3 linked regions of the Homo sapiens genome follow. The protein of the gene in region 1 interacts with the protein of each later gene in a pairwise test. Each region holds a gene or a part of one and is shown on either strand. Other genes may lie near its edges.

Evidence for each region. Proteins that work in one complex are often made in the same cells at the same time.
Region 2: the proteins of PRKRA (region 1) and ZNF746 interact in a two-hybrid assay, tested with the Homo sapiens proteins (one large-scale study listed by BioGRID and IntAct).
Region 3: the proteins of PRKRA (region 1) and RABEPK interact in a two-hybrid assay, tested with the Homo sapiens proteins (one large-scale study listed by BioGRID and IntAct).

The regions. Positions count from the first base shown.
Region 1 is NC_000002.12:178,444,109-178,449,032, reverse strand, and holds part of PRKRA (interferon-inducible double-stranded RNA-dependent protein kinase activator A), read left to right. Parts: intron 1-1,446; coding exon 1,447-1,528; coding exon of another isoform or gene 1,529-1,577; intron 1,578-3,497; exon of another isoform or gene 3,498-3,607; intron 3,608-4,532; coding exon 4,533-4,611; intron 4,612-4,924. UniProt on the Homo sapiens protein: Activates EIF2AK2/PKR in the absence of double-stranded RNA (dsRNA), leading to phosphorylation of EIF2S1/EFI2-alpha and inhibition of translation and induction of apoptosis.
Region 2 is NC_000007.14:149,491,270-149,495,568, reverse strand, and holds part of ZNF746 (zinc finger protein 746), read left to right. Parts: intron 1-1,065; coding exon 1,066-1,365; intron 1,366-1,453; coding exon 1,454-1,580; intron 1,581-2,596; coding exon 2,597-2,710; intron 2,711-4,299.
Region 3 is NC_000009.12:125,216,783-125,221,081, reverse strand, and holds part of RABEPK (rab9 effector protein with kelch motifs), read right to left. Parts: intron 544-4,299; coding exon 382-543; intron 1-381. UniProt on the Homo sapiens protein: Rab9 effector required for endosome to trans-Golgi network (TGN) transport.

The DNA of each region.
Region 1 (4,924 bases):
ATCCCAAGCCCAGTTACAGAATAGTGTATCAGTCTGTGCTTGCTGAGCATCTTTGCCTGGATGACACAGAGGCCCCTCAAGCCTCTCATTGTCCCAAACTGAATCCATCTTTTCCCTCAAACCCATTCTTCTTGCATTCCCTTTCTATGTAAAGGCTCCACAATCACCTAGTTCAGTAGAAATGTAGGCTTTTGTCTTCCTAACTACTTCCCGTCTTTCTCCCTCTTGTCCAGTCTGTTATTAAACTCTATCCATTGGCGTTTAATAATCCACTAACTATCCATTGAATCTGTCGGCTTCTCTCTTCTGGCCATTGCTACTGCCTAGGCCACCATCATCTCTCACTTGGATTGTAGCTGCAGTCTTGTAGCTACACGTTTACCTTCTAGTCTTGTGATGTCCTTTTGTCACATTACAACCAGTGTTCATTCTTTTTTTTTTGAGACAGGGTCTCACTCTGTCACCCAGGCTAGAGTGCAGTGGCATGATCTTGGCTCACTGCAACCTCCGCTACAGCCTGCACTTAGGCTTGTTGTAACATATCCCATTCCATACTTCAGGTGCCTATTAACAGACAAAAATCCCACACTACTCTGTTGGCTCTTGAGGGCAGGGACCCTGTATGCTATATCCCTAATACCTGTGTTAGCAGATAAATATATGGTTTCTGTGTCTTCTTACACTTGAGGGCCACACTTGAAGGCCACACTTGAAACTTATTCCATGAGGGTATGGGAGTTTGAACTTAAAAGGAAAAAGATGGAATTTATCATTTGCCATTGTGATTGCTTACTGAAATTAGACATCAGTCTTATCCCCAGTCCCAACTTAGCTACCCATGCAGAAGATACAGACCGTCCAGAAGATACATAACAAGCTGTCACCTTATTCCATAAAACTCTTTCCTGTTGTACCCAACACATAATCATGACTGCTCAGCCTAGCAAAGCAGTTTGATACGTTATAGGACAGGCTGTCAGAATAAAATTATGCACATTTTGCTATCAAACAATTCTGCTGTAAATGGTTCCTTTAAAAGAAACTTCTTGCTGCAGAAGAATTTCCCCTCCAGGAATAAAGGAAGAGTAAAATACTAATCTGCATTTCTTCAGAGGTGTGACACGGTCTACTTTATTACCATGTTATATAATAAACATATATAATGTAGAAATAAGGATTTTTATGCAGGTATGCATAGAATTATATAGAACTTTAAAAAGTTATTTTTTAAAATTTTTTCACATGGTGAATATTTTATTACAGTATATAACCATGTAGTATATAACATGTACATATTTTTATGTACAGTATATAACGTACATATTTTTATTACCTAGTATGTGTATGTAAAATCTATAGTGACTTTGTTTTGTGTATTGAAAACATCTTTGTAAGCTGCACATTTTTGTGGGAGATAAAGACTTCTTTTTTTAAATCTTAATTCAGGTGAAGGTACAAGTAAGAAGCTGGCGAAACATAGAGCTGCAGAGGCTGCCATAAACATTTTGAAAGCCAATGCAAGTATTTGGTGAGCTAAATTTCTTTGTATTCAGCAGCTCAAAAATATCATGGCTGAGGTAAGATTAAAAATTTGAACATGCTTACAAAAGCAACAAAGTGAACAGTTGTTAGCATCCTACCTCTCAAATTCTATTTCCTTATGAAAACTTATCATCCATTAAAGAAAACTTTATCCAATCAAATCCAGCAATTAGCTATTAAATGAAGGTGCTCATGAACTAGGCTTTACTGTTTTTTTTTTTTTAATGGGATACAACAGTAGAAAATCAGTGCTTCTTGCAAATATTAATATTAACATTTTGTATTTAGACTTTGATTATTTCTACATTGAAGAAAACAAAGTGTGAGATGGAGAAAGATCCACTAAAAGTACTCTTTTGGGAATTCTAATTTTGAAGAAGCAGGCAGAGGTTTTCTTTTATTATATAATGTATACCAAAAGAAGAGAATGTTAAGTGGGATATTAATTCTTGACATATCTTTCTAAAGTAAGATTTTTTTTTTTTTTTTTTTTTTTTTGAGACGGAGTCTCGCTCTGTCGCCCAGTCTGGAGTGCAGTGGCGGGATCTCGGCTCACTGCAAGCTCCGCCTCCCGGGTTCACGCCATTCTCCTGCCTCAGCCTCCCAAGTAGCTGGGACTACAGGCGCCCGCCACTACGCCCAGCTAATTTTTTGTATTTTTAGTAGAGACGGGGTTTCACCGTTTTAGCCGGGATGGTCTCGATCTCCTGACCTCGTGATCCGCCAGCCTCGGCCTCCCAAAGTGCTGGGATAGATTTTTTACTACTTTAGGTGTTTCTAGATAGAATATTGGTCCTGGAGCATCTCACATATTAAAGTAGTGTCCACTGGGTGCACTCTGGAGCTTGGCATGCTTTCAAGTTCTTCTTGTGCATACACTTACATATGCCTGAAGTACGATCTGTGTAATCAGCTTATAGTTGACAGTAGAGACCCAGGGAATTTGGGATGGGTTTTTTGTTCCCTAGTCATAGAAAGGCTTTTGGATTAGGGGTGTAGTTAGGTTCTCATGTAGTATTCCTCTCTTTTTGTAAATCATTCTAAACCGTTTGGGTAGTTTAGAACTAACCAGTGACATGGCAACCCTCTAGATAAGCAGCTGCCCAAGACAAGCCTTGCATTTCACAAGATGATGCTTGATTCTCTAGGGTCATGCATTATAATTGATCTATGCCAGGCTGGGCGGGGTGGCTCACGCCTGTAATCCCAGCACTTTGGGAGGCTGAGGTGGGTGGATCACTTGAGGCCAGGAGTTCAAGACCAGCCTGGCCAACATGGCAAAACCCTGTCTCTACTAAAAATACAAAAATTAGCCAGGCATGGTGGCAGGCGCCTGTAATCCCAGCTACTTGGGTGGCTGAGGCACAAAAATCGCTTGAACCCGGGAGGCGGAGATTGCAGTAAGCTAAGATTGTGCCCCTGCACTCCAGCCTGTGAAACCCTGCCTCAAAGAAAAACAAGGCCAGGCATGGTGGCTCACACCTGTAATCCCAGCACTTTGGGAGGCCAAGGTGGGCAGATCACTTGAGTCAGGAGTTCGAGACCAGCCTGGCCAACATGGTGAAACCTCGTCTCTACTAAAAATACAAAAAATTAGCCGAGTGTGGTGGCACGCTCCTGTAATCCCAGCTGCTTGGGAGGCTGAGACACGAGAATTCCTTGGACCCAGTAGGCAGTGGTTGCAGTGAGCTGGGATCGCGCCATTGCACTCCAGCCTGGGCGACAGAGCAAGACTCTGTCTCCAAACAAACAAAAAAAAGACATGCCAAATGACATGGCAGGTATTGGGTTCTCCCCCACTGGTGATGGCCATGCTGTTTCTGTATAGCCTGAAGGTGAACCCAACCATTAAGTACATTTGTAGAAATGAGGGGTATGGAGTGTCCTTTCTGCATCTTGGCACTTTGTCAGCAAAAAAAGCTAACAAACTTTACTATATTTGTGCTTCTTGACAGATAAAATGGGAATTACTAAGCTGTAATCAGGCCTAAAGTGGCCTGACTTAATACAGAGACTTTCTCACTTCTCCATCACAATTATTTGGGTAGCTTCGGCATGCAGCATTGTAAGTGAATACTCATATCTCATCAGCCTATGTAAAGCTTGAAATTCTCACAGTTGGAAAAAAAAAACCTTGAGGAAGTGGCAATAACTAAACCTCATTTGTCATGGAAAAATGACTCCAGTTGCCTAGGTGGTACTAACCTTGAAATGCCGCTTATTCAGTTTTAAGTACTGACCTGCTAAGTAACTAGTAATTCCAGACTCCCTAGAAGAGGTTGTTCTCTTTTTCCCTAATCATAATCCCCACTTGCTAAAACCAAATTCATCTAAGCCATCTATTTTCTGCAGGATACATGTAAATCTTAGAGGATTATCCCAGCACTGAGCAGATGATAGATCAAACAGATCTCTCTTCATAGTTCTGTGGATGAAAAAACAGTATTTACACATAATCTGTATTATTCACATTGCCAGGCTAAATTTTCTGGATCATTGTTACTCTTCTGTTTTTTGTATAGTTGTAACAGAGTATTCTTTAAATACATTTTTATGGCATGCCTATTATGTACAAAACACCACAAAGCTTATGTAGGTAAGTGATACATAGGCCCTACCTCAAGGAGCTTACTGTCTGAACAGGGGAGAGGTGTGGTGAAGGATGGACAAATTATATGTATTTGTAAGAGTATATAATTTATGGTAAAACAATTTCAAGAAAGGATTAAACCATGTGTTATAATGTTTCAAAGAAGGGAGAGATTATAAACCACTGGGGTAAAAGGATAGGCTTCTTGGAGGAAGTGACATTTGAGATATATCTTGGATGACCGATCAGATTCCCATAGAAGAGGTCTGAGAAAAGGGCATTCCATGTAGAAGGAATGACAAGAGCAAAGACATAGAGAGTTAATTAGAAAATGCTTGTCATTTATTTCATAATTCGGGGGAAATTATTTTGTTTTATAACACTTTTAAAAAATATTTAGCTTTGCAGTTCCTGACCCCTTAATGCCTGACCCTTCCAAGCAACCAAAGAACCAGCTTAATCCTATTGGTTCATTACAGGTAAGTTGTACAGTTCTTTGCCTACTGATGAAATATATAATAAGTTTGTAATGTCAGAGGGGCTAACACAAGGAATTAATATTTTAAAGACAAGATAGTGATATATTTTGTTTTCCAACTTACGATCATTAGATTAACAGAGCTAACTTGAAATTATTTTCCTATTTATGTTCTGGGTTTTCTTTCATATACAGTATTTGCCTTTGGCTTATAGAATTCTCATTTAAGATCAACAGGCCCTCAGTGCACATGGGTAAAGTGTTTTATACTTTAAGAATAGTTCTTGCTACTCTTGTGACAAATCTCTTTCTAC
Region 2 (4,299 bases), on another chromosome or scaffold:
CCAGGAGCTCCTCTGTGCCCTGTAGGTCCCACATTCAGATGTGGGTGGCTCAAACAGTCCAGCTCCCTACCCACCGCAAAATGTGCCCATTCTTCCTTGTCCCAGCTGCCGGTCACTGATACGCCATGTGAACATTTCCAATGACAGGGAAGGCCCCCGTCTCTAATTAAGATGGTTGCTGTCCATATACAAGTCTAACTGTGGCATATATGTACTTTCCTCACCAGACTGCAGGGTATGTCACTGCTCCTGGTACAGCTACAAAAATGTCGGAGGCCGTCATTTTTACCTTGAGGGGGTGGGAATTGGGAAAGAGAAAGAATCTTGTAGGGCTCAGGCAGTGTCAAAAAGCCTAACTCTGGACTGATGGAGATTTGCAGTCATGGGGATTTTAGCTTGTGGGGGAGGGGCAGATGGGAAGGTGACAAAATGAGACTGTCCTGGGGGAAGAGGAACTGGCCATTAGATTTTTATGTTTGTTAAAAGGGGACATGAGATGCTTTAAAAAACAAAAAAAGAAAAAAGAAATTGAGCAATACTCTTGTTTGTGCCGTTTCAGTGAACCAGCTGTTTTTTTTGCTGGGTCATCATCAGTAGACAGTTCCTGTGTAATCATGAGGGGAGGTGCAGGCTGCGCTCTAGTAAATCTGCAGTTTACCATTTCTCCACTAAAATGCCCAGCAATGCTAAGTCACTGTTTACGTAACAAAATTGCACTGGGTACCTGCCATGTGTCAAGGACAGTGGTATGAAAAGATGCAATACCATGTTCAGGGAGCCCACAGTGTAGGTGTGGGTAGGAAATTATTGTGTAGGGTGATAAGCACCGTGATAAGGGTCTGCATTGTGCTGCAGAGGCCTGGAGTAAAGGCACCCACCCAGACATAGACCTAACATACCCAAGCAGGTGATGGCCAACCTGAGATCTGGCATGTGGTATAGGATAGCCCCACTTGTCCACACATATGGACTCCCAGCCCAACTCCCCCGTGCCTAGGGAGAGAGGGGCTCAATGAAGACAGTGGATGGAATGAGTGATGCCAGTTTCTCTTTTGTTTCTGAAAGATTTCTCCGTGGACGATGGCAGCCACGATTCAGGCCATGGAGAGGAAGATTGAATCGCAGGCTGCTCGCCTGCTTTCCCTAGAAGGTCGAACCGGGATGGCCGAGAAGAAGCTGGCTGATTGCGAGAAGACAGCCGTGGAGTTCGGGAACCAGCTGGAGGGCAAGTGGGCCGTGCTGGGGACCCTGCTGCAGGAGTACGGGCTGCTGCAGAGGCGGCTGGAGAACGTGGAGAACCTGCTGCGCAACAGGAACTTCTGGATCCTGCGGCTGCCCCCGGGCAGCAAGGGGGAGTCCCCTAAGGTAGCCCTGGGACGCCTTGGGGTGTGGGAGCCCAAGCGGCCAAACCCGTGAGCGTGTGGGTGAGCGAGTGTGACACTTGTGGTTCCAGGTGCCCGTGACCTTTGATGATGTGGCCGTGTATTTCTCCGAGCAGGAGTGGGGCAAGCTGGAGGACTGGCAGAAGGAGCTCTACAAGCACGTGATGAGGGGCAACTACGAGACGCTGGTCTCCCTGGGTAAGGCCTGACACTCATTTCTCTGTTAAATGGGATTTTGCAAGTCCTCAGAATTCTCCCTCCACATAGTTGTTTTCATGTCAGTGTTATATAAATCACCAGAAACATTGTTGACCTTGCAAGTTGTTACCTTTTGTGAAGGATGAGCCCTGGGTGATGGAGTTAAAAGCTCCCTTCTCCCTGTGTTGAGTTTCCCAGAATGCCAGTCTGGGAACGGCGGTGGCTTCTCTCCTACGCAGGCCCGGGATGTGGACCTTTCTGTTCTTGCTGACTTGGAGCGGGGAAGGCCCCATCTGCTCTCAGATCCAGTATGTAATTGACTCACATTTGAGAAAGACTCTTTCCTTCAGCCTTCTCCTACAAACATGCGTGGCCCTTACGGCAACATGCCTCGAGGTCAGTGGAGAACATGGGCAGACGGTGCTGCTTGCAGCAGACATTTTCTTCATGCCTCAAAACTTTGCTTCCCTCAGCCCCTGGGGCTACTGCTCTTCTCCTTGTTTAATCCTGCCCAGGAAGGGCCTGGACTCTGTTTCTTCCTGGGCTGGTTTTCTCTTCCTAATGGTTTCTGTGTGACCCCGGAGCCGAGGGCAGTGAGACCTGTTAGAGAGGGCAGGAGCAGGTGCAGACGTGAGGTTGTTTCGTCAGCACAAGTGCACTGCTGTTTAACGTGCACGCTCTGTGGCAGTTTCTTCACCCCGGCACTGTGGACATTTGGGACCAGGTGATTCTGTGTGTCGGCGGCATCCTCTGCATTGTAGGATGTTGAGCAGCAGCCCTGGCCTCTCAGGGCATCTCCAGATGCCAGTCACCTCTCCCCCAGCCCTGGGCATGACAACCAGAATTGTCTCCAGACTTTGCCAGATGCCCCCAGGGAGCAAAATTGCCTGTGGTTGAGAGCTACTGCTTTGTGACAATCAAGAGATTTCATTTCTAGACCATTGTTGGTTTTCCGGGATGACTGTCCCCAGCTTTGACTGGAACGTGGCAAAAACTAACCTTCTGTCTTTCCTCAGACTACGCCATCTCCAAGCCCGAGGTCCTCTCCCAGATTGAACAAGGGAAGGAGCCCTGCAACTGGCGCCGCCCTGGCCCCAAGATTCCAGATGTTCCTGTGGACCCCAGTCCAGGTAAGGGCTGGGAGAAGGCCAGGGAGGCATCAGGTATTGTGCAGGAAACAGAGACGGAAAGGCCAGAAAGGGTGTGATCTTTCCAGAGAGAGTCGAGGAGAAACATGAAACTTACAGGTTTTATGTCTTGAGTTTTTTATAGTTGAGTTTTAATCTCTAACTTAGTCAGCTAATGCTCCAGAAATGAACACTTTCTGTCAGGGAAACAGGTGGCAAACCTAATCTTTTAGGAAGAGACAAAGGCAGGGCACAGGTTGAGGGGAGGGAGAGGAGAACGCTGAGAGGGAAGGCAGGAGCATAGTTGACCCTTAACGCAGGGGCCAGGGGCACCAGCCCCCAGTCCCACGCAGCCAAAAATCTATGTATAACTTTTGACTCTCTAAAAAGTTAACTGCTAGTAGTCTCCTATTAACCAGAAGCCTTATTGATACTATGAACAGTCAATAACACATATTTTGTATGTTCTGTGTGTTACATAGTGATACTTACAATAAGCTAGGGAAAAGAAAATGTTACTAGGAAAATCATAAGGAAGAGAAAATATATTTATTACTCATTAAGTGGAAGTGGAGCATCATAAAGGTCATCCTCCTCATTGTCTTCTTCAGATTGAGTAGGCTGAGGAGAAAGAGGAGTGGTTGGTCTAGCTGTCTCAGGGGTGACAGAAGCAGAAGAAAATCCATTTATAAGTGGGCCTGCATAGTTCAAACCCATGTTGTTCAAGGTCAGCTGTATATTGACAACAAAATTAATCCAAAGCTTTGCAAAGAGTCAGCCTTGCCTCCAAGAACCAACCTTAATTTAAACCAGTAGCAGTTGTAGAGCTACTTTGGTCTACATTGGTCAGCCTTATGGTTTGGTATTATTAGAAGCACACATTTATTTAAGGTGAATCTTGTTACCAGATATCAGCGTCTCAGATTTCCCTGGAGCCAGTCAGCACCTTTGAAAGTTAAGGGAAGGACAGGTGGACACAGGAGAAAAACCAAATTCCTAAAGTGAAGACCTGCTGGGTCATTTGACTAGGGAGACCACATCTCTGCAAGGCTCGACCCCTGATTCCTCCAGAAGACCCGCCCTTGACCGTCCCACCTGCCTTGGTTTTCCCTTTCGTCTGACACTGAGAAAGGTGGTGGTCCGCAGAGGCCCTCCTGTGCGCCACTTGTGTGAAATTAAATGCATCCCCCATGTTCGTCATCTCATCTCAGTCAGATTTGCACTTTCCTAAGGGCAGAAGCATGTTCCGGGCTGGCCGCTTTGCCAGTCGTCATCGGGACATTGACAGTTTAGCTCTACAGATGCATTTTTAAGAATCTTCTAGGCGTCAAGGACAGTGCTGAACACTAGAGGACAGAAAGATGGCTGAGAACAGATACTATTGGGCTGGAAAAGAGGGTTACAACCCGTGCGCGTCCCCAGCTTCCTAGCCTGGGTGGGAGGTTCTGGGTGGGTGGGTTTCGTTGTATTTACACCATGTGTGGAGGCTTCCCTCACTTCCACAGCATCATTCAATGAGAGTAAAGAGGGGCTGGAAATACGCTGGTTGCTGGTAAGACCCTGTAACACTCTCTAGCTGCACCGTATGATGT
Region 3 (4,299 bases), on another chromosome or scaffold:
TTAAGCGATTCTCCTGCCTCAGCCTCCTGAGTAACTGGGATTACAGGTGCATACCATCATGCCCGGATAATTTTTGTGTTTTTAGTAGAGAAAAGGTATGTTGGCCAGGCTGTTCTCGAACTCCTGACCTTAAGCGGTCCACCTGCCTCAGCCTTCCAAAGCTCTGGGATTACAGGTGTGAGCCACCATGCCAGGCCTCACTATCCCTTTTTAAATGCCAATTTTGCTGTGGGAAAAAGATATCAGCTAAGAGATATAACAAAGAAGTCTAGAAGTGAGACACTTAGTCAGGCTTTCCTTTTCTAACTTCTGCTTCCTATATTAGGTAATGTGTAAACTGGGATGGCCCTGACCAGCCCCAAGGTGCCCACCAGTCCATACTTGCGTCAAACACATGCAGCTTCGTGTCCTGCACGGGCTGGGCACCTCTCTCTCCGCCCCCAAAGACATATAGCTGGTTTCCAATGGCTGCCGATGATGTGTGGAATGTTCTTGGGGATGGTGGGGGGCTGGTCACTTCTGGCGTGGTCCACGTCCTGGTTTCTGGGCCAGAGAGAATGCAGGCACTTAAAATATCCAGGTAGAGGGGCTTCTGACCTTGACTCTGGGGCTGAGTGAAGTCAGTTTCCAAACTCCAATCCCCAGGGGGGCCAGCATAGTTTTGGGCAGGGATCTCATACTCACAAACATCAAGGAAGAATGAAGATGATACTTAGGATTTGCCAAGACAGTCCAAAATCCCCAAGATTTAAAAGCTGTAAGCACAAGAATGGAGTCAGGCTGGGTGCAGTGTGGCTCATGCCTGTAATCCCAGCACTTTGGGAGGCCAAGGCGGGCGGATCACTTGAGGTCAGGAGTTCGAAACCAGCCTGGCCAACATGGGGTAAAACCCCATCTCTACTAAAAATCTGAAAAATTAGCCGGGTATGGTGGTGGGGACCTGTAATCCCAGCTCCTCAGGAGGTTGAGGCAGGAGAATCGCTTGAACCCAGGAGGTGAAGGTTGCAGTGAGCTGAGATTGCACCACTGCACTCCAGCCTGGGTGACAGAGCAAGGCTCCATATTAAAAAAAAAGAAGAAAAAAAAGAGGTCAATTTGTTTTGGAGGCCTTCAAATATCCTCTCTGAACCCTCTTCTACTTTGCTCACTATCGCTCCCCCTAACATCTGCTAACATTCATTCCCACTAGATGCCAGAGTCCAGGTGTGCCAGATTTCCCAGAAAATGTGGCCAATAAAAGAAAGTAGGCAGGCCATGTGCAGCAGCTAACACCTGTAACCTCAGCAGTTTGGGAAATCGAGGTAGGAGGATTGCTTGAGCCCAGGAGTTTGTGACCAGACTGGGAAACAAAGCAATATCCTGTCTCTACAAAAAATCAGCCAGGGGTGCAGTGGCTCACGCTTGTAATCCCAGCACTTTGGGAGACCAAGGTGGGTGGATCACTTGAGGGTAGGAGTTCTAGACCAGCCTGGCCAACATGGTGAAATCCCATCTCTACTAAAAATAAATAAATAAATAAATAAAGCCAGGTGTCGTGGTGGGGACCTATAATCCCAGCTACTCAGGAGGCTGAGACAGGAGAATCACTTGAACCAGGAGGCGGAGGATGCAGTGAGCTGAGATCATGCCACTGCACTCCAGCCTGGTTGACAAAGCGAGACTTCATCTTAAAAAATAATAATAATAAAATAAAATAAATTAAAAATTAAAAAAAATTAGGCTGAGCACAGTGGCTGTAAGGCCTGTAACCCTAGCACTTTGGGAAGCCAAGGCAGGAGGATTGCTTGAGCCCAGGAGTTTGAGGCTGCAATGAACTATGATCGTGCCATTGCACTCTAGCCTGGGTAAAAGAGTAAGACCATATCTTGAAAAAAAAAAAAAAGAAAGAAAGAAATGAAAAAAAAAAAAAGACAATACTATTACATTTCAGTAGCAGTAATAACAGTCCCTACTAAACAGTAAATGCTAAACAAATATTAATTTCCGCATTTTACAGGTAAGAGAATTGAAGTAGGGATGGATTAAGTAACTTTTTAAAAGAGACATGGCTAGCCAGGCTCGGTGGCTCATGCCTGTAATCCCAACACTTTAGCAGGCTGGGGCAGGTGGATTGCTTGAGCCCAGGAGTTTGAGACCAGCCTGGGCAACATGGCAAAACCCTGTCTCTACAAAAAAATACAAAAAAAAATTAGTCGGGTGTGGTGGCGTATGCCTATAGTCCCAGCTACCTGAGAAGCTTAGGTGGGAGGATATACTGAGCCTGCAGCGGTTGAGGTTGCAGTGAGTCAAGATCACACCACTGCAACTCCAGCCTGGGTTACAGAATAAGGCAAAGAAAGAGAGAGAGAAAGAGAGAGAGAGAGAGACAGATAAAGTGACATGCCTAAGAAATGGCTGAGTTGGAATTTAAACTCTTTCAGTAACACCAAGATCTTTCTAATTCCCACTCCTCTGACTGGAGAATAAAATTTCACCACCTAGATAGATGTATAGAAGCTTATTTCTTTTAAGGATGAACCTGGGTTTTATAGAAGCAGATGCATTAATTGAGCACCCTCAATGGGCAGCATCATTGCCCTGGGCACTGCCATCCCTGGTGTCTTCACTCAAGCTTGGGAAGTGAGCGGAAGTATCTCTACTTTTAGATGAGGAAACTGAAGCTCTGCACATTTAAATCCTTTCCTGCAGGTTATAGCATATGTGCGTAGCAGAGCAGGAGTTTGAACTCAGTTCTTTTTTTTTTTTTTTTTTTTTTTTTTTGAGACGGAGTCTCGCTGTGGCTCCCAGCCCAGAGTGCAGTGGCGCGATCTCGGCTCACTTTGCAAGCTCCGCCTCCCGGGTTCACGCCATTCTCCTGCTTCAGCCTCCCGAGCAGCTGGGACTACAGGCATCCGCCACCATGCCCGGCTAATTTTTTGTATTTTTTTTTTTTTTAGTAGAGACGGAGTTTCACCGTGTTAGCCAGGATGGTCTCGAGCTCCTGACCTCCTGATCTGCCCGCCTCGGCCTCCCAAAGTGCTGAGATTACAGGCGTGAGCTACCGCGCCGGGCCTGAACTCAGTTCTATCAGAGTCCCACACTTGCTCTACCATAACACACCAAGAAATTCTGTCTTTTGTAAAAGGTCTACATCCAATATATAAAATGCTACAGGAAACATCTGTAATATGTGTGGGACTCAAATGGGGACCTGGAGACTGAAAAAGTCTCAGCCTATATCCAAAGCAAAATGTAGCTGTCTCTATAGTTACAGATGTTGGAGAGCTTTTGGATCTTAGAGGGAGCTAGAAAGGTATACATGTCACCTCCAGGCCCAGAAGACCCTAGGGCTGTATTCCTGCCAACTCAAACACCAGCACAAAGAATCACAAAGGAGTCCTGAGCATTTGAGGGACTTGCCTTGGTAACAAATGCAACTAAGTACATATTTCATATTTCTTGGGCATGATGTCAAATTATATTTTCTAGGAGAGAAAAGGGATATGATAGAAAATCACCCTCTTTAATATAAAAATTAGCTGGGCATGGTGGCATGTGCCTGTAATCCCAGCTACTCGAGAGGCTGAGGCTGGAGAATCATTTGAACCCAAGAGGTGGAGGATGCAGTGAGCTGAGATTGCGCCACTGCACTCCAGCCTTGGCAACACAGTGAGACACTGTCTCAAAAATAAAAATAAATAAATAAATAAATAAAATAAAATCACCCTCTTTGACAGCTTTCCAAATTCTCACTTTATTTTATTTCAATGGATACCATTGTTGAAAATCAAAAGGCCAGGGTTCCAGAACTGATTTCCCTTTGCCAAACCTTAACTACATCAACTACCACAACAATTACTGAGCATTAATTATGTGCCAGATACTGAGTTTATTTAAATCCTTGACAAATTAACAAGGTAGAAACTATTACTATCCAATGTGACAGAAAACAGAGGCAGAGAGAGGTTAAATCACTAGTCCAAGGTCATAGTTAGTGCATAGCAAAACAGAGACCCTCATCTGTGCCCTTAAGCACCATATTATACTGCTAGTCCTCCAAGCAAATTGGCTTCACAATTAGCCAAATGGTCTGCCAAGTGTCTACTCTATCACTTTCTTCTTTTTTTTTTTTTTTTGAGACGGTGTCTCACTCTGTCACCCAGGCTGGAGTGCAGTGGCGCGATCTCGGCTCACTGCAACCTCCACCTCCCAGGTTCAAGCGATTCTCCTGCCTCAGCCTCCCAAGTAGCTGGGACCACAGGCACCTGCCACCAAGCCCAGCTAATTTTTTCTTTTGTATTTTTAGTAGAGACGGGCTTT